Linked DNA regions of Homo sapiens. The protein of the gene in region 2 interacts with the protein of the main gene of each other region in a biochemical or structural test. Each region holds a gene or a part of one and is shown on either strand. Other genes may lie near its edges.

Region 1 (7,036 bases), on a different chromosome or scaffold from region 2:
CCACAGAAAATTTGAGGGGTGATAAAAATGTTACACATTTTATTATGGTGGAGGGTCAGCAAAATGCATCACACTGAACACTTAAAACGATTTTTTTTTTTTTAAAGACGGAGTCTCACTCTGTCAGCCAGGCTGGAGGGCAGTGGCAGAATCTCGGCTCACTGCAACCTCCGCCCCCTGGGTTCAAGCAATTTTCCTGTCTCAGCCTCCCAAGTAGCTGGGACTTAACAGGCATACACCACTACACTGGGCTAATTTTTGTATTTTTAGTAGAGATGGGGTTTCACCATACTGGCCAGGCTGGTCTCAAACTCCTGACCTCAGGTGAACTGCCTGTCTCAGCCTCCCAAAGTGCTGCAATTACAGGCGTGAGCCACCGCGCCTGGCCTTAAAATGATTTTTATTGCACTACGCATCAAAAAAGCTTTCAAAAGTACTCGCCAGAAAATGTAAAGGCTTATAAATAATAAACTTTGAAATCTGAAAATACTAATTTTCAACCACAAGTAGCCATAAATTATCTTTTCTCGCCAGGCGCAGTGGTTCACACCTGTAATCCCAGCACTTTGGGAGGCCAAGGCGGGCGGATCACCTGAGGTCAGAAGTTCGAGACCAGCCTGACCAACATGGAGAAACCCTACCTCTACTAAAATACAAAAAAATTAGCCGGGTATGGTGGCGCATGCCTGTAATCCCAGCTACTCAGAAGGCTGAGGCAGAAGAATCGCTTGAACCTGGGAGGCGGAGGTTGCGGTGAGCCGAGATTGCACCATTGCACTCCAGCCTGGGCAACAACAGCAAAACTCCATCTCAACAAAAAAAAAAAATAAAAATTTTCTCTGTGCCTTTGGACACAAATGAACACAGAAGAAAACCCCTCATTTATCATGACATTATGGGTCATTGTTTTCTCTATATTCCAAATTTAATATACCATTACTTTTATGATTTTAATGTATTAAAAATTTCTCTAATCTTTACTGTCTCTCCATTTCACGTTCTCAATTAAATCCAAATAGTTCCTCGTGGTACACAGTGTAACACCACATTCCATGGAAGCAACATGTTAACTTGCAAACAGTAACAGTAACTCAAAGCACAAAGTTTAGAATTCCTACATTCTAAAGATACTCTAAAGGATATCTTTCTGAGATTTTCCTCTGGCTAACTGAGCTGATAATAAGACGGCACATAGAGAAAAGTCAGAAATTAAGATGTGCAGCCACTCTTGAAAACAAGAAATAGCACTGAGGAATTAGGTACATTTAAGGAAGAAAGTAATTTGTTCTTACAATTTGGATAGCTGACAAATGTCAATACTGTGAGCAGATAATAGTTCACTCTCAAAATATTTTCAGATACAGTTTAAAATAAGCTATCTATCGTAAGAAACTAAACATGTTATTAGACACATAAATTGAATATGCCTTCAAATATCAAGAGAGTAATAATAATAAATACTGTAAATGGCTTATGACCTTATAACCTTAGGCATATTTAGGAAACTCTAGGCTTTAAAAAGGAGCAGGTAGGGGTGAAGGGAGAGAATCAGTGGGCATGATTCCTATGAATTCATTCCCTTAGTCCCTCCCCAACCACTAATGCAGTCCCCAGTTCTCTGCAAGGTGCACGCATCAGGATTTTAGTTCAATTTGGAGCTTGTATGATGCACTCTAGTCTCACTCTACTTCATCTACTACACTGTTCACCCAGGGTACTCCAAACTCCTATTTGCCGACCCAGGTCTGGGACTGCTCCTTGGTCAAGCATCGACAATCATTATATTCAATCCTGCTAACTAATAACAAAAGGCAAGTACTTTGCTCATGTGCTAGTTTCTCAAAATGTCCACAAGAGACAGACAACTAGCAACTGTTAAAGATCAAAACAGTATAAAAGACATTAAGTTTTCACCTGCAGTATCAAAAAGTCCAAGAGTATATGGTTCTCCACCAATCATAACTGTGACTGCATAGTTGTCAAAAACCTAAAAACAAAAAAATACAACACTGTTAGTGTGCAAGGAGAGAGTTAAAATGGGACAGGACAACTCTTAAGCTAAGGCAGTGTTTCCTTGCTAAGACTTAATCGTCCCCTAGTCCATCCATCATCCTTATATAACCAATCTTGCCAACCAGTCCTTGCATGAGCTAAATGATTCCTGGAAAAAGACAAAGGATGTGTTCTGAGATTTCTGCTCTACCCCAGCAGCCTGGATAAAGAGCCAGAGAAGGTTTAGAGGTGTCACAGGAGCAGAGTCCTCTAGCTACACAAAATGAACCTGTTCAAGTTTGAAACTTTTCAGACAGTGGTCTACCTCAACATTCAATCTGATTCCTAAGAAACTACTTCTTCATAGACCATTTCCTTTTCATCTAGAAATAAAATATCCTAGATCCATGACCTTTCTTCCTTTCAGAGTCCTAGAAAAGATGAGCCTTGTTATAAACAAGCCCATTTGAGAGAAATAACGGTTCCCTCAAAGTACTCAAAGTGTCCAAGAAAAAGCTGGCAGATTATTTGCTGGGAAGTTTTTTTTTGAGACAGAGTCTCACTGCGTCATCCAGGCTGGAGTGCAATGGCATGGTCTCGGCTCACTGCAACCTCTGCCTCCTGGGATCAAGCGATTCTCCCACCTCAGCCTCCTGAGTAGCTGGGACTACAGGTGCATGCCACCACACCCAGCTAATTTTTGTATTTTTAGTAGAGACAGAGTTTCACTATGTTGGCCAGGCTGGTCTCAAACTCCTGACCTCATGATCCACCTGCCTCGGCCTCCCAAAGTCCTGGAATTACAGGTGTGAGCCACTGCACCCAGCCAGCTGGGAATTTTATGAGTAAAATTCATGTTATTGGGCACAAACTGCATGATCTAAGACATCTTCTTTAACAAGATGCTTAATATGTAAATAGACCATAAAACCCTTATCAAATTCAGTAAAGCATATGCTAATATCGGTTGTACGAAGTTATTTGTGAAAATGGGAGGTTTAACAATGCTAAATGGGAAAAGACCCAACACAAATTCTGGAGTCTTTAGAATTAATTTACAATTGAAAAGCAATGCTTTCATATACAACTATAATCTGTCAATTTACAGTAAAAATTTTAAAATTAAATGATATCTATAAAAAGAAAAGCAAAGCTTTCCAACTAGGAGAAGAATGCCACATTTTAAGACCAGCCCTACTTAACTTTTAGGTACCTACTCTGATTTTCTGACTTATGTTTTAACAGATTGTTCCAGAGCTTATTTAAATGTAAAGAAGAGAAGCAAGGGCATGAGGGAGATGACAGTTAAAGGAAAGTCGGTTCTTAAAAACAGGAACAAAGAAATTGAATGAATGTGGTTAAGCTCTCAAACCAAACAGATTATTTTCTTAAATCACACTTAAGAGACTCAAAAACAACCCTCCTTTACTAGATTGTTCATATCCAAAACTAGACTAAGAATCAGAAAAGCTGGCTTCCATTCCAAAGTCTACTTATGCTAGTGTAATTACGCTAAGTAATTAAACTTAGACTTCTAAGTCTCATCCCTAAATTGGGCCTGAGTACCCTCATCCATTAAGAGATGGGTAAGACAATATATATTGTCCCATCCAGCTCTGAATTTCTATTACTCTAGAAATGGCAAGCCCCAACTCATAGATGGGAACTTAAATGCATTCTACACCAAATCCATTTCCATATTAACTTCAACAGGTACCATGAGAACATTACTTGTGCCTCATGGTCCATTCATTTACCTAAATCGGTTCATTTAAAATTTTATTCTACTACTACTCTTCCTTCCACTCTATCACTTTTCCAGAGATGTACAACACAAACATACATATAAAACACCCACAAGCCCACTTAAAATATAACACCAGAAGATCAAAGTCATAAAAGACTCAGAAATTATGTTTACAAGTAAATAACTTCAATGGAGACTGAAACAGAAAAATTCTGATAGCTGTCCTCACTCTGAAACAAGATTCATGTACCTCTAAATGTCCCCTGTAAGTCCACTGAACCTCAAAACGTCTTCCATTTATCTTGTCTCCAAATGAGCCAATTCAAAATATCAATATGATTTTAGTGTTTAATAATACCTTCAAATTCTCCCCCCTTCAAAAAAAAAACTTTCCTTATTTTTGAGACAGGGTCTCACTACCTTTCACAAATGAGTGTTACTCTAACTCTTGTCTCTCTCTCACTTCAATATTTTTGTTATTCCCATCTTCCTTCTACCATTCCAAAGAGTTGATTTAAAAAACAGTTATGGGGCCAGGCATGGTGGCTCACGCCTGTAATCCCAGCACTTTGGGAGGCTGAGGCAGGTGGATCATTTGAGGTCAGGAGTTCAAGACCAGCCTGGCCAACATGGTAAAACCCCGTTTCTACTAAAAATACAAAAATTAGAAAGGCGTGGTGGCGGGCGCCTGTAATCCCAGCTACTCAGGAGGCTGAGGCAGGAGAACTGCTTGAACCCGGGAGGCGGAGGGTGCAGCAAGCCGAGATCGCGCTACTGCACTCCAGATAGAATGGACGATAGAGACTCCATCTCAAAAAAAAAAAAAAAAAGAAAAAAAGAAAAGAACAGTTGTGGGAGTGACCCCCAAAGGACTCTGTTGGTGTTCTCGAAACATAACAGGTCTTCTCTTCTCTGCCCCTAAGAACCAGTTTGGAGCTCCATTACTGCTAAGCGAACAGCTCCACAAGAAAAGTGGAGACACATACTACTTTCTCTCAAGTTACAGGACCTCAAATGGTATCCCAGGAGACCTCCAAGTACTGATCAATAATTGGCCAAAATATCAAAAAAAAAAAAAAAAAAGTCACCTCATTCCAAGATGTAGGGCATACTTCACCAAATTGAGACCACCACTCGTTAGAATCTTGTCTACTGGAGTTTTGCCTCCCAGCACTTCTTGCAAACCCTGTGTCACCCCTTCTGACTTTCCACTGATTTTTCAGCTGTTTAAAGTGTATATAATTTACCCATGAGAAGTCAAGATCTTTAAAAACAGGAAACAAAGGCAGACAACAGAAAAAAATTCAGTACACATAGAGAAAGCGTTTTCAAAAGGATATCAAATTTTACAACATTTTACTAACAGAAGGAAGCCTTTATACTTACAGTCGGTACATATTCCGATGGAAATTTGTTTGTTGTGTAGGATATCAGGAGACATGTTTTACCAACAGCACCATCGCCCACAACAACACACTTAATTGTCTGCATTGCTGAAATAGTTTTGTATCCACTTTAAATATTTCAAATCTGATGATGACCTGCAAAAAGATTAAAGACATTTGTTTATTTATACTTACATATGGATTTTTCTTCCTCACTTAGCAACAGGTTCAGGCACTCAGAGCAAGAAAAGAACTAGCACAATTATTATGGCTAAAAGAACCCAATAAGAGACACAATGACTTGCTATAAGTTACAATAACAAATAAGGTCCATTTCTAAGTTTCTGATCCCTGGCTATTCCAACTTCTTAAGTGTTATTTTTAAAAGGTCCAAAGTGGTGTGATAATCAGCGAATTTATTTTTATCATGAAAGAGAAGAGGCTGTATCAGAGAAAATTCCACAGTGTGCTAAATATTATTTTGTGAAAGCTGTTCTTCAGTTACACGTGCACACACACCTGTATGTATGCATGTATGTCAACTAGACTGCAATACAAAGGCCACTGCTTTAAAGAATGGTTCATGATCCAGCCTTATTCAGCCTTACTCAGGCTCTGACCAACAAGCAGCAGAGCACCACACGATCACACGGTAATTATATGAGTAACGTGAGGAACTGAACAAAGAACAGGGTGATCGCTGGCCTCAGCAGCTGTTTTAGCACCAGAATGCCTAGTCCAAAACCTACATTTTTATAATGAAAAAGTCAGATTGCTCTAAAGCATACTGACTTATAAACAGATACTATAGCTTCTCTTACTAGAGTCCTCCTCCATTTTAAGAAGCTATCAATTACAAGTACCAAAGAGTCATTAATTTGAGATGCTTTTTTTCATGTTAACATCTCTAAAGTCAGAATGTATCTTTGAGTCTCTTAGAATCATTATCAGCCATTTTTCCCCCACATTTTGACTTCTATGAAATTGGAATCTTAGATTCAATGAAATACTTTAACAGTTTTCTGAAAGAATAAAAAGAAACACCACCCAATATGTACCTAAATTTTAAGATTTATATTTAAATTAATTTAAATTATAATCCTAAAGGGGTTATAATTAAACATAAAAATACAGAACCACCTAACTCTTGGTCAGATGCCACCATGCTCCTATAGCACCATTCACAACAATTAATCATAACAATTTATAAATGCCTATTAACATCCCTGTAAATGAACCTATACTACCTCATGCACCACTATACTTCTAGCACTGAGCACTTCTAGACTGACACACTGTGAGTTGTTGATTGGATGCAAAAATCACGAAACAAAAGAACATGAAACTACATTAGTGTGAGTAACTCACATGAAATATACACTCTCCCGCTCCTCATCAAAATTATCTGCAGTATATTTTTCTTTTTTTTAGACAGGGTTTTACTCCCGTCACCCAGGCTGGAGTGCAGTGGCACAACCTCAGCTCACTGCAACCTCCACCTCCCAGACTCAAGCAATCCTCCCACCTTGGCCTCCCAAGTAGCTGGAACCACAGACGCATGCCACCATGCCCGGCTGGGTTTTTGTTTGGTTTTTGTTTTTTTAAGAGACGGGTCTCACTGTTACCCAGGCTGGTCTTGAATTCCTGGACTCAAGCAATCCACTCACCTCGGCCTCCCAAAGTCCCAGAGTGCTGGGATTACATGCATGAGCCACCGCAGCCAGCCATATTTATCCTTCTTTATTCAACTTCCTTTTATATCTCCTTTTTCCTTCTCCTTTCCCTTTTATGCACTAAGAAGCACCCATACTAACTAATACAGCATTAAAGATTAACAACCCTGATCCCTAAGATCAATCAATTACTGGTTAAATCTAAAAGCACTCAAATAATAATAGTAAGCAGCAAACAC
Region 2 (7,036 bases):
GACTGTTTCCTCCCAATTGAGAAACTGCAAATAAAACGACTGTTTCCAAAAACTGACTGTGTTTATGCGATAACTTAAGTTTCAGATGACTCTGAAGACTGACAAGGTTCAACTGTTCAGCACCTTTCCACAGTCTATATTCAGTAAAATAGTACCAGAAGGAAAACTGAGGGATGGAGAGGAAAATATATGCTAGCAAGTTCTTTGTGTTCACGTTTGTATATGTTAACATTACCAAAACTAACTAAACTGTTCTGAAGGTCATTATAAATTTTAGTTACATTAAGTATCACATCAAGGAATTTCTATTTAATACGGCTTCTTCAACTAATCAGGTGGCTAGCTAAAAACACCTATTGAGTAGTTATTTACCTCTGATGGCTGTAATTTATTTTAGAAAGCAAAATAAAAACTGAGATTTGTCTTGGGTAACCTAAATTAGAACAAGAGATACAAGAAATAATATAATTAACTTACTGCTGGTGTTCCAGAAGGAAAGCCATCTTTCTCTGAATATGAAACAAAACATAACATTAGCAATTCAAGAAACAGCACTTTTATATGATAAAAGGAAAAAAAAAAAGCAGAGAAAGTGAAATGTTCTTAAACTGATTTCAAGTTGAATTAACTCTTGAGAAAAATGAACACGCAAGTAGTCAAATAAGAATTTATATAAGACCAAGGTAAGAAATCTGAAATCTACATGAAACTATAAATTTAGTAAAAATCAGTGAATTATATATTTAAAATGGGTGAATTGTATTGCATGTAAATTATACCTCAATAAAGCTATCAAAATTTAGTTTGAAAGTATACCTATCAATCTGTATTTATTAAAACAAAACAAATTTATTGATAAAGATACTTTCTCCAGAAAACTGCTGACTGAGGAACTTAATGCAACAATTAAGACAATGACAATTGTGCAAAGTAAAATTCTGACATTGTTTTGTTTTTCTTTTAAAAATGCCCAGAGACATACATATATGTGTGTGTGTGTGTATATGTGTGTGTGTATATATATATATATATGTGTATATATATATATATATATCACACACACACACACATATCACATATTACATACGCACAGGCCGGGCGCGGTGGCTCATGCCTGTAATCCTAGCACTTTGGGAGGCCGAGAGACAGGCAGATCACCTGAGGTTGGGAGTTCAAGACCAGCCTGACCAACATGGAGAAACCCAGTCTCTACTAAAAATACAAAATTAGCCAGGTGTGGCGGCGCATGCTTGTAATCTCAGCTACTCAGGAGGCTGAGGCAGGAGAATTGCTTGAACCCGGGAGGCGGGGGTTCTGGCAAGCCGAGATTGTGCCACTGCACTCCAGCCTGGGCAACAGAGTAAACTCCAGCTCAAAAACAAAACAAAACACACACACGCACGCGCGTGCGCACACACATATATGTATGTATGTGTACTAGGTGAAAATAAGCTACCATTTTGTGGTCAAACATTGGTTTTTCAAAAAAATTACTAATTTACACACAGACTTACTGGTTGATAGAAAAGTTCTAGGAGCAAGTGTGACCTTTTCCTAACGGTGTACTAGACTCAACAAAAAAAGGTCAAGATCACTTGAAAAAGATTTCTATTTCTCCCTTGCACATGGCCTTTGTTTCTGTGAGGATGCAAACAGTAAGTAAAATCAATTAAAACCACATGTACGATTTTAGCTCCATCATATTGCTTTTGAAAACCACATGTATGACTTCAGAGACAGACAAACATATTGAAAAATGACATCCTGAGGATGTAGTGAGCAAAATCTAAACTGAGGGAAACAGGACAAATGATCTTGTTTCTGTAATAAATAAACGTCAAGAAAAGACAGCATGAACCAGTGTGTGGGAGGGGAAGCCTAAAGATCAAAAGAGATTCAAGAGATGTATCAACCAACTGCGTTGTATGAACTTTATTCTGATCTTTATTTGAACAAAAACTATTTTTAAAAATCCACTACACCAACTCTTACACTATATACCAATTCACTGGTTCTCTCATAGGTTAACGGTATATCTCAGATACTGAGCAACTTGGAAAACAAAGTACATCAAACCCCATTTCCATCCAGCTATATTCATCCAGAAAGTAAAATTTGCATTACTGTGACTATGTAGATGATATTCCAGATATTCCATTTCTGAGGTATAAATCCTTTTAGTTCTAACGCTTCTTTCGTATATGATTTATCTGTTTTATATATTAAAATACATATATTCTATTATCTGCACACTTGCGAGTTTCAATTTTTTGAGTGGACCTAAACATTTTTTAGTTCAACCTCCTCTTGTCCCGCTAACAATAAATGTGTTTCTAGTATGAACATGTCTATCAACCAGCGTCTTTTCCTTTGATTGCTGGAAGTCATTTAAAAGCAGTGAAGAGTGAAAAATGAAAACAAAAACACAGCAATGAGGAGAAAAAACCAAATAAACAAAAAGCCAAAATATCCATCAACTCCCGTTTCTGGCAAACCTATGAGATTACTATAATTCACAGATCCAAATTATGCTTCAGAACTGCCCTGGATCAGTCTACAAAAGGTAGAATCTATCCAGGGAAAAACCGTTATCAACAAGAACCATAGTTTAGCTTTTCATTTTTCCAGGAGTAATCTTTTTATCTAGAAGTGCTTCACAAATCTCCATCTGATCCAGCCTTATGCCACTCTCTTACCAGGAGGAGTAAAGCTCAGATATTTCTGCTTCACTGTGTTGGAGTCGTAGAACTTTAGGACATCCAGCACAGCCTGAGGATTCTTCTTTTGCTCTAGTTTGGTGATATTGGAGGTCTGTAGTAATCGAGCCCACTGTTCTGGCATGCCCTAACAAGAAGATATTCAGAAATTAGTTATGGTTTAAATTGATGCAATAAAATTAATTTCCAGAGATAAATGACAAAATACACAAAACAAACCAATCTTTTGAGTGTAGGTTTGAGTAAATTTTAAAAGATCTCATTTTCTAAAGGTCTATTTTTTCTTTTTTCTTTTTTTGAGACAGAGTCTCACTCTGTCACCCAGGCTGGAGTGCAGTCGTGCGAGATCTCGGCTCACTGCAAGCTCCACCTCCCGGGTTCAGGCCATTCTCCTGCCTCAGCCTCCAGAGTGGCTGGGACTACAGGTGCCCGCCACCACGCCTGGCTAATTTTTTGTATTTTTAGTAGAGACGGGGTTTCACCATGTTAGCCAGGATAGTTTCAATCTCCTGACCTCGTGATCCACCCGCCTCGGCCTCCCAAAGTGCTGGGATTACACAGGCGTGAGCCACCGCGCCCGGCCTAGGTCTATTTTTTCTAAGTCTGTTTTGCATAACTATAATTAATAGGCTCTGCTCTCTAGGAAAACGATATATCCAACCACTAACACTTTTATAAAAAGCAAAAAGCAGTAAGAATTCATAGTTAACGTATAGATAGAAATGTTAATTTCCCTTTTTTTGAGACGGAGTTTCACTCTTCTTGCCCAGGCTGGAGTGCAATGGCACAGTCTCTGTTCACTGCAACCTCCATCTCCGAGGTTCAAATGATTCCCCTGCCTCAGCCTCCTGAGTAGTTGGAATTACAGGCATACACCCCCACGCTTGGCTAATTTTCTTGTATTTTTAGTAGGGATGGGGTTTCACCATGTTGGCCACACTGGTCTCGAACTCCTGACCTCAAATGATCTGCCAGCCTTGGCCTCCCAAAGTGCTGGGATTACAGGCGTGTGCCACCGCACCTGGCCTGAAATGTTAATTTCAAATTTAATAATGAAGGAAAATGTTTGAGTGCTATTTTAAACGTTATAAATGGGCCCGAACTAGGTTAACTTACAGTGAATTCTCCAGTAACAGCATCAAAGCCAACATGGATGGTGTGCTCAAAATCAGATGGAGGAGAAATTTCTGGCCGTTCCTTTTCTTTCTTTTTACTTCCTAGGGGGCATTAGAAAAAAAGAGAAAGAATCAGCCTATTTAAACAAGACTAGTAAAGGCACTTATAATTTTATTTTTTGTCTTTTGTTTTTTTAAATGGAGTTTCGCTCTTGTTGCCCAGGCTGGAGTGCAGTGGTGCAATCTCAGCTGACTGCAACCTCTGCTTCCCGGGTTCAAGCCATCCTCCTGCCTCAGTCTCCCAAGTAGCTGGGATTACAGGTGCCCACCACCATGCCCGGCTAATTTTTGTATTTTTAGTAGAGACAGGGTTTCATCATGTTGATCAGGCTGGTCTCAAACTCCTGATCCACCTGCCTTGGCCTCCCAAAGTGCTGAGATTACAGATGTGAGCCACCGCATGCCCGGCATATTATGTTTATATTTTTCCTAAAACATATTAGGATCAAAGTTATTCTAGAAAACACACTAGAATCAAAGTTATTCTAGAAAAGATTTCCCCTAAAAACTGGCTGATAGGAAACTAGTAAATGAAGTAAAGCAGACTGTCCTGCCATAGAGTAGGGCTGGACACAACCAAACACTGAGGAGGCACATGGAGTGACCAACGGCAGGCCTGAGTAACAGAGCACAGGCAGAAGAGACACCCCCTTCGGGCACCAGCTCTCTCACAAAGGGCTACATCTCAGATGCTGAGCAATGTGGACAGCAAACACAGCAAACCCCATTTCCACTCAGCTACATTCATCAGGAAGTCAGATTTGCATTACTGTGACTCCGCAGATAATACACACTGTCAAGACAAGTAGTTGACAAAACCACCTCTCCTTTTTTGTGCAAGCATAATCCTTTTTTAGTGGAGTTACTAATTGCCACATTTTAAAACTATGCAGTTTTTCTATGGTCCGATTGTAAATTATTTCTGCAACATTTCTGCCACACACCTATCAATAATGTTCTCTGTGAACTCCAACACATCAGTTCCTTCCCCCTACCCCCTCCCTCTCAGCTCCTCCTGCTCTAATCTGCAGTAGCTCATGCCTACGCTTCCTGCAGTTACCGTCCATGACATCCCTTCACTCCTGCCCTGTATGTGCTGGAATCTATTTTCTGGATCTTACGTTTTCCTCTTGATTTATCCCTTTAGTGATAGTTCTTCACTAATTTTATATATATATAAGTTGGAACCCTCAGCATTTCCAGTGTTGCCATTTAGAAGGCCAGCGCCATTTTGGTTCCTGTTTGGAGCCACTGTTGAAAGTCAATTGTCTGTACACGTGTGAGTCTATCTCTGAAGGCTCTGCTCTGTTGCAATTATCTGTTTGTCTGCCTTTATGCCACTATCAGACTGCCTTGATTATTTTATTGCCATTTTGTAATACGCATTGAAACTATGTCACATAAGTCTTCTTTTTCTTTTGTCAAAGCTGTTTGGGTAATCGAGGTCCTCTGCATTTCCCTATTAATTTTAGAATAAGCTTATTAATTTCTACAGAAAGCCTGTTGGAATTCTGACTAGAATTGGAATGAATGTACATACAGATGAATTTTAAGGAGAATTTCTTTCTTTCTTTCTTTTTCTTTTTTAACAGGGAGTCTCATTCTGTCGCCCAGGCTGGAGTGCAGTGGCGTGATCTCAGCTCACTGCAACCTCTGCCTCCCGGGTTCAAGCAATTCTCCTACCTCAGCCTCCTGAGGAGCTGGGATTACAGGCATGCACCATCATACCAGGCTGATTTTTATAATTTCTGGTAGAGATGGGGTTTCACCATGTTGGCCAGGCTGGTCTCAAACTCCTGGCCTCAAGCGATCCATCTGCTTTGGCTTGCCAAAGTGCTGGGATTACAGACATGAGCCACTGCACCTGGCTGAGAATTTATTTCTTGATTTCTTAACAACACCGAGTTTTCTGATCCATGAAAACAGCAAATCTTTTCATTTATTTAGGTCTTTAAAAATTTCTCTCAGCAGTGTTTGCAGTTGTCTTCATCCGTTCGGTACGCTTTATCAGAATACCACTGCCTATGCAATTGATTAATATAAACATTAGAAGCTGGCTGCGAGCAGTAGCTCATGCCTGTAATCCTGGCACTTTGGGAGACTGAGGTGGGCAGATCACATAAGGCCAGGAGTTCAAGACCCATCTGGCCAACATGGCAAAACACTGTATCTAAAATGCAAACTTCAGCCGAGTATAGCGGCACAAGAATTGCTTGAACCCAGGAGGTGGAGGCTGCAGTGAGCCGAGATTGTGTCACTGCACTCCCCAGCCTGAGTCACAGCGTGAGACTGCCTCAAAAAAATAAAAGTTCATTTGGCTCACAGTTCTCCTGGAGGCTGGAAAGTCCTCCAGGTCAAGGACCAAGAAGCCACACCTGGTGAGGGTCCTTCTTGTTGTGTCATAACGTAGCCGAAGGCATCACATTGCAAGAAAGAGAGCAGGAGAGGGCCAAACTGGCTTTTATAAGCAACTCGCATCCACAATAAAGACATGAGTCCATCCGTGAGCACTCGCGTCGCCTCTTGAAGGTCCCATGTCTCAACACTCTCTTACTGGGGCTTCAGTTTCTAACACATGAACTCTGGGGGACACTTAGAAACAGAGCAGTAGTTATCAGTGCAGAGCGCACACTGTTTCATCAGATTTCTGCCTCGGTATTTCCTGGTTTTGATACTATTGCAAATGGCAGTTTTAAAATTCCCTTTTTAATCATTCATTGCAGCCATAAAGAAACACAGTTGTTTCTTGAATACTAATCTTATATCCTGAAACCTTATTACACTTACTTCCACTAGTATTTTTGTAAATATACAATTTTGCTACAAAAATTCAATCATGTTGTCGGTGAATAAAATCAAGTTTACTTCTTTCCAATCTGGATTCCTTTTATTCGTTTTCTTAAAAAAAATTTTTTTTTGCCTTACTACATTAGCTAGACCCTTCAGTACATTGTTGAATAAAAGTGGATGAAGAGAAATTTTATTTTTCCTGATCTAAGAGGAAAAACTGTCATTCTTTTTACCCTTAAGTTTAATGCCAATGGTAGGTTTTTAAAAGATGTCCTTTATGAGGCTAAAGGGCATTCTCTTCTATTCCAAGTTTGCTGAACACTTCTATCAGCAATGGATACTGGGTTCCGTCAA
Region 3 (7,036 bases), on a different chromosome or scaffold from region 2:
GGCTAAGGTGGGAGGATCGCTTGAAACCCAGGAGGTGGAGGTTGTAGTGAGCTGAGATTGTGCCATTGCACTCCAGCCCGTGCGACAGAGTGAGACCTTGTCTCAAAAAAGCAAAAACAAAAACTATTAGAGATACGTCTTTGGCCGGGCACGGTAGCTCAAGCCTGTAATCCCAGCACTTTGGGAGGCCGAGGTGGGCGGTTCACCTGAGGTCAGGAGTTTGAGACCAGTCTGGCCAATATGGCGAAACCTCGTCTCTACTAAAAATAGAAAAATTAGCTGGGCACGCCTGTAATCCTAGCTATTCAGGAGGTTGAGGCAGGAGAATCGCTTGAACTTGGGAGGTGGAGGTTGCAGTGAGCCAAGATTGTACCATTGCACTCCAGCTTGGGTGACAGAGGGAAACTGTCTTTTTTTGTTTGTTTGTTTTTAAAGGAGATACATCTTCATCTGTTCCTGCTTTGACCCTTTGCCTGGACCATGGCAGTGTCCTTTCAGGCTGTACGTCCCTCCATCCTGCCCTCCTGTGCCTCTGCTTACACTGGGCTCTTAAGGAAACTCCTGCTCCTTGTCTCATCATCCCTAGGGATGGTTCTGTCTTATCATTTCTAGAATTGGATGCCTTGCCATCTTGTTTGCTCCTTAACTCTGCATACAGGGCTGTGTAAATAATTCCTTCATGAAAATCTCTATTTCAATCTTCTGGGATGAGTTTTTTCCTTCTGGGACCCTGACTGATAGAGACTGATAATACACCCGTATGAAAATATGTCTGCCAGGTGCGGTGGCTCATGCCTGTAATCTCAGCACTTTGGGAGGCCGAGGCAGGCGGATCACCTGAGGTCAGGAGCTCGAGACCAGCCTGGCCAACATGGCAAAACCCTGTCTCTACTAAAAGTACAAAAATTAGCCGGGCGTGGTGGTGGGCGCCTGTAATCCCAGCTACTCAGGATGCTGAGGCAGGAGAATCACTTGAACCCGGAAGGCGGAAGTTGCAGTGAGCTGAGATTGTGTCACTGCACTCCAGCCTGGGCGACAAGAGCAAGGCTCTGTCTTGAAAAAAAAAGAAAAAAAGTCAGAAATAATTTGCAAAGCATGTTAGAAAATTCTAGATTTCCTGAATAGCAATTTAATTGAGATTGGCCAAGAAATATTACATAGGGTTGATACTCTTTTATTCTAAGATAGTCCTTTCTGAGCATGGGGTCTATAATTTTTTTTTCCTCCACCTTACTGCTGCCCCACCTTTTAACTTTCACTTAGTGGACCTTTGCCCCAAGATTTTCTCTCAGCTTTTCCTAGGTAAGACAGCATCACCCGGGCGCGATGGCTCATGCCTGTAATCCCAGAACTTTGGGAGGCCAAGGCAGGCGGATTGCCTGAAGTCAGGAGTTCGAGACCAGTCTGGCCAATATGGTGAAACCCTGTCTCTACTAAAAATACAAAAAAATTAGCCAAGGATGGTGGGGGGCGCCTGTAATCCTAGCTACTCGGGAGGCTGAGGCAGGGGAATTGTTTGAATCAAGGGAGGTGGAAGTTGCAGTGAGCCAATATCGTGCCACTGCACTCCAGCCTGGGTAACAGAGTGAGACTCCGTCTCAAAAAGGAAAAAAAAGACAGCATCTTACATTCAGGTATTTATAAACAACTTTTATTATTTATTTGTTTTTATTTTATATTGGCTCACTGCAGCCTCCACCTCCTGGGTTCAAGTGATTCTCCTGCGTCAGCCTCCCAAGTAGCTGGAACTACACGTGCCTGCTACCATGCCGAGGTAATTTTTTTTTTTTTTTTTTTTTTGAGAAGGAGTTTTCGCCCTTTTTGCAAAGGTTGGAGTGCAGTGGTGCGATCTCGGCTCACTGCAACCTCCTCCTCCTGGGTTCAAGCGATTCTCCTGCCTCAGCTTGTCGAGTAGGTGGGATTACAGTCACGCTCCACCACACTGACTAATTTCGTATTTTTAATAGAGACGAGGTTTCTCCTTGTTAGCCAGGTTGGTCTCAAACGCCTGACCTCAGGTTATCCACCTGCCTTAGCCTCTCAAAAAGTACTGGGATTACAGGCATGAGCCACTACGCCTGGCAATTTTTTGTATTTTTAATAGAGACAGGGTTTCACCATGTTGACCAGGTTGGTTTCGAACTCCTGACCTTAGGCGATCTGCCCGCCTTGGCCTCCCAAAGTGCTGGGATTATGGGCGTGAGCCATCGTCCCTGGCCTAAACAACAGTTTTATTATTTTATTTTTTATTTTTTTATTGCTTATTACTATTTTTTGAGATGGAGTCTCGCTCTGTCACCCAGGCCGGGGTGCAGTGGCATGATATGGGCTCATGGCAACCTCTGCCTCCTGGGTTCAAGCAGTTCTCCTGCTTTGGCCTCCCAAAGTGATGGAATTACAGGCCCGAGCCACTGCGCCCGGCCACAACTATTTTAATAGTGTTGTTTTGGTGTTGGTTGATTAAAGGAATGGGAACGAATGACTTGAAGCCCTCTCTGTTTCACTCTTTATACAAAGTGGAGTCCAGATTGGGCTAGTGGCCTGTCTAGCCCAATGTCTGACTTGGACATACATTACTGTCCAGGAGTTTCTTAGCTGAATGTGAAAAATGCCTTCCGTGACATCATCCTTACAGGAACATTCTTTACATTTATTCTTTACTTCTGTTGAACGGTGGTGGCGTGAACCATGAATTTGTTTAAGCTTTTCAGCTGTTTTGTGTGTTTTCCTCTCAAGGCATGGGGTTTCATATTTTTGACCTGTGGTAAAGGTATTTGAATTCTGCACTGGCCTCCAAATGTAGGTGTAGTATATGGCTCTGATCTTTGTTGATGATTTTATACATAATGTGGTTTTTTTTCTTGATAAGCCAAAAAAATTATACATAATGTGTGTGTGTGTGTGTGTTTTAATTTCAAATGATAGTTACAGTAAAAGTTTGGAGTTGGGCTAAGTGGGAGGAGCATCAGGAAGCCATTTTTAGAAACCTTAAATTCACCCTTTATAACTTTCTGTCTTTTTGCATTAGTCATCTGATACCTTAGTACTGCCTACTTTTTCACATCTCCATCACTACGTAGCTCTTAAAATTGTAGTCTTCCTTGAAAGGAGATGTTTTTGTCAAGAGTCTTTGCCACCAAGGCAGGATTGCATGTGATCAGTAGGAATATTTTCCTGCAATGTCTTAATATGAAAAATTTCAAACAGACTAGTGGAAAGCATTGTACAGTCAACATGCACATACCCATGGCCTGGATTCTATGACAGTATTTTGCTCTACTTGTTCATTTTGCTGTATTTGCTTTATCATGTCTTCCTGTTATCAGAGGGAACCTTTTAAGAGGATTTATAGAGGAGTTGATTTTGTTTTTTGTTTTGTTTTGTTTTGCTCTTTTTGAGGTGGAGTCTTGCTCTGTTGCCCAGGCTGGAGTGCAATGGCATGATCTCTGCTCACTGCAATCTCCGCATCCCAGGTTCAGGCGATTCTCCTGCCTCAGCCTCCTGAGTAGCTGGGCTTACAGGCACCCACCACCATGCCTGGCTAATTTTTGTATTCTTAGTTGAGACAGGTTTCACCATCTTGGCCAGGCTGGTCTGGAACTCCTGACCTCAGGTGATCCACCTGCCTCGGCCTCCCAAAGTGATGGGATTACAGGCGTCAGCCACCATGCCCGGCCTGATTTTGAAAAAGAATAGGGACTGTGTGCAGTTACATATAAATTCTTATTTTTGAACTCTTGTGTGTTCAGCTGGCTTGTATCAACTACACCAGGGTTAGCCTTGATTCTGGAAGGGTGGATTCAGACTTCAGCTCAGTTGTACATAGTGTCTTCAGCCTAAGTGAGAAACTTTATGCACTATCTTAATTTTTTGAAGCTTCTAGTGGTAATAATTGCTGGCTTTTTTTTTTTTTTTTTGGTAGAAACAGAGTCTTGCTCTGTCGCCAGGCTGGAGTGCAGTGGCACGAAATCAGCTCACTGCAACCTCTGCCTCCCAGGTTCAAGCAATTCTCCTGCCTCAGCCTCCTGAGTAGCTGAGATTACAGGCGTGTGCCACCACACCCAGCTAATTTCTTTTGTATTTTAGTAGAGACGGGGTTTCACTGTGCTGCCCAGGCTGGTCTTGAACTCCTAAGGTCAGACAGTCCGCCCACCTTGCCCTCCTAAAGTGCTAGGATTACAGGCATGAGCCACCGTGCCTGGCTTATGGCTAGCTTTCTTTACATTGATTGTGAAGTCAGATATTGGTAGTAGAACATCATAATTTTAGATTGGGTTTTGTGTTTATTTAGCACTGCACTACTCTAGTGGTGTATTTTTCTGGACAGATTTTATCTGCATAGTTAACGCAGTTATATATAAGGCCTACCGTTACAGAATCCCCATACCTTGTTTGTCAGTGTAAATCGAGGACCTTCATGCGAGGTCTTTAATTTATTCAATAAGTAGGAATATATATTTGACAGTTACTAAATTCTACTGCCTTGTCCTTAAGATCTACATACTTTTTTTTGTTTTTTGAGTCAGAGAGTCTCGCTCTGTTGCTCAGGCTGGAGTGCAGTGATGCGATCTCAGCTCACTGCAACCTCTACCCCGTGGCCTCAAGCGATACTTCTGCCTCAGCCTCCTGAGTAGCTGGGATTACAGGCGCCTGCCACCACACTCAGCTAATTTTTTGTATTTTTAATAGAGATGCAGTTTCGCTGTGTTGGTCAGTCTGGTCTCGAACTCCTGGCCTGAAGTGATCCACCCGCCTTGGCCTCTTGCTGGGATTACAGGGAAGAGCCACTGCGCCTGGCCAAGATCTACTCACTTTTAGACAGCAATATATGCTCTGTATTTTGGTTTGCAATTGTAATTGTCATTGGAAGAGTTTGGCTTTTCTGTCCTGAGATCAACGTGTCTTTAAAAGAAGGCAGTGCAGAAAGTTGTTATTTTTTGAGCTTCTTGGATCTTTTATTTTTTTAACGTGAGGAAATTCCTAGCGTTTCTAGATTTGTTGATTGTGCTTTTAAGTTTTGGTTTATAGATTTCAGGAAGTAACACTAAAGTTTACCCTACTCTCCTCAAAAAGTAAGTAAAAAGTTCTCTTGGCTGGGCGTGGTGGCTCACGCCTGTAACCCCAGCACTTTGGGAGGCCGATGGGGTGGATCTCCTGAGGTCAGGAATTCGAGACCAGTCTGGCCAACATGGCAAAACCCTGTCTCTACTGAAAATACAACAACAAAAAAAAATTAGCTGGATGTGGTGGTGCTTACGTGTAGTCCCAGCTACTTGGGAGGCTGAGGCAGGAGAATTGTTCGAACCCAGCAGGCAGAGGTTGTGGTAAGCCAGGATTGCACCATTGGGCTCCAGCCTGGAAGACAGAGCCAAGACTCCGTCTTAAAGTTCTCTTAATGGAAAAATGAAGAACATAATAGCAACATAAGTTATTTGCTTTCATTGTGGTTATTTCTACAGGACAGGGCAGGGGAAGCACAGATAGGTTAAAAAAAATTGTAGCATCATGAGCTAGGGGGAAATCCAATGTAGAAATGGCATGAACTTTCTTCCAGCCGACTCATGTTCGTTTCCTAGAGTGATGACATTGCTCGATGATTGAAAAGAGGTTGAACTGAGCAGTTAATTATATAAAGTTAGAAATTCCAAAGAAGTAGTAACTACCAGAAATTCTCCAGCAGTATCAGTCAAGACTTGTGGCCAAATACGGCTTCCATTCTTCATGAGGGAAAGGCCATGGAAAGGCTGTCACATTGCCCAGTGCAGATGTTGACTTGGTTTGTGGAAGCGCAGCGTGGACAAGGAATGAATATACACTAATAGGAGTGGAATAACCTTTTTCTTTTACCTATTTGAATAAATTAAGTAAAAGTTTTAATCAGAAGACTTAAAGAGGAGTCGATTTTATCTTTTGATTGCACTAAGCTTAAATATAAGGTTGCACTTTAAGAATTCTGTAGTTTAATAATCATATTCTTATAAGACATAGATTTGTAACAAATAGTGATTGGTAATAAAATTTCAGTCAGTATCAGATTATGCCAGTACCTTGAATTTCTTCCCGGTTGAGCCTTTCTCAGCTAAAGATGTCATTCAGGAAAGGAAGTTTAGAGGATTTTAGACACAGCTGGTTGCCTTTATATTAGTAGTTTTGTTCCTCATATACATAGAGACTTAGGACAGAATAGTAAAAGAAGTGATAATGACATTTTATCATAACAGTCAAAACCTTCATAGCAGCTTATCCTTGACACTGAGTGGCAACTATTGTTAAGGTTTTTACACAACCTTTATCTTTTTTTTTTTTTTTTTTTTTTTTTTTTTTTTTTTGAGACGGAGTTTTGCTCTTGTTGCCCAGGCTGGAGTGCAATGGCGCAATCTCGGCTCACTGCAACTTCCGCCTCCCGGGTTCAAGCGACTCTCCTGCTTCAGCCTCCCGAGTAGCTGGGATTACAGGCATGCACGCCCGGCTAATTTTGTATTTTTAGTAGAGAGGGGTTTCTCCATGTTGGTCAGGCTCTTCTCGAATTCCTGACCTCAGGTGATCCGCCCGCCTTGGCCTCCCAAAGTGCTGGGATTACATGTGTGAGCCACCGAGCCCAGCCAACCTTTATCATTTTTAAAAAGGTCCCTTAGAGCCTTAGGCTCCACTTTCTTCCTCAGCTGCCACATCCAAACCATGGGTAAGCGATGCTTGATCTGCCTCCAAGTTCAAGCAGTCCAGGAAACAGCCCACTTATGTTCACTGTCCAGTCCCCATTCTTGGTCCAGGCCACCATGGATGGCTCCTGGACTGTAGCAACAGCTTCCATGTGTGTCTGCCTTGACTGAGTCCCTGGCGTCCTCAGGCTTCCTGCCACACTGCAGTTGGAGGCTTCTTCTAAAATCCAGTGCTTTCTGGGCAATTTAAAACCTGTGACTTTCCAAGTAGGATCTAGTCCCCATGTCCTTAACAAGAAGAGGTAACGTATTTCCCTATGCCACTGCCCACTTATTTTTTTATTGTTGAGATGGGATCGTGCTTTGTCACCTAGGCT

Evidence for each region. The genes of interacting proteins can lie anywhere in the genome.
Region 1: the proteins of PAK2 (region 2) and CDC42 form a complex in vitro, tested with the Homo sapiens proteins (4 studies listed by BioGRID, with this or other methods).
Region 3: the proteins of PAK2 (region 2) and RAC1 form a complex in vitro, tested with the Homo sapiens proteins (2 studies listed by BioGRID and IntAct).

What each region holds. Positions count from the first base shown.
Region 1 is NC_000001.11:22,076,673-22,083,708, reverse strand, and holds part of CDC42 (cell division control protein 42 homolog isoform 1 precursor), read right to left. Parts: intron 5,281-7,036; 5' UTR 5,231-5,280; coding exon 5,126-5,230; intron 1,988-5,125; coding exon 1,915-1,987; intron 1-1,914. UniProt on the Homo sapiens protein: Plasma membrane-associated small GTPase which cycles between an active GTP-bound and an inactive GDP-bound state. In active state binds to a variety of effector proteins to regulate cellular responses. Involved in epithelial cell polarization processes.
Region 2 is NC_000003.12:196,798,825-196,805,860, reverse strand, and holds part of PAK2 (serine/threonine-protein kinase PAK 2), read right to left. Parts: intron 3,935-7,036; coding exon 3,834-3,934; intron 2,845-3,833; coding exon 2,697-2,844; intron 510-2,696; coding exon 478-509; intron 1-477. UniProt on the Homo sapiens protein: Serine/threonine protein kinase that plays a role in a variety of different signaling pathways including cytoskeleton regulation, cell motility, cell cycle progression, apoptosis or proliferation.
Region 3 is NC_000007.14:6,377,491-6,384,526, forward strand, and holds part of RAC1 (ras-related C3 botulinum toxin substrate 1), read left to right. Parts: intron 1-7,036. UniProt on the Homo sapiens protein: Plasma membrane-associated small GTPase which cycles between active GTP-bound and inactive GDP-bound states.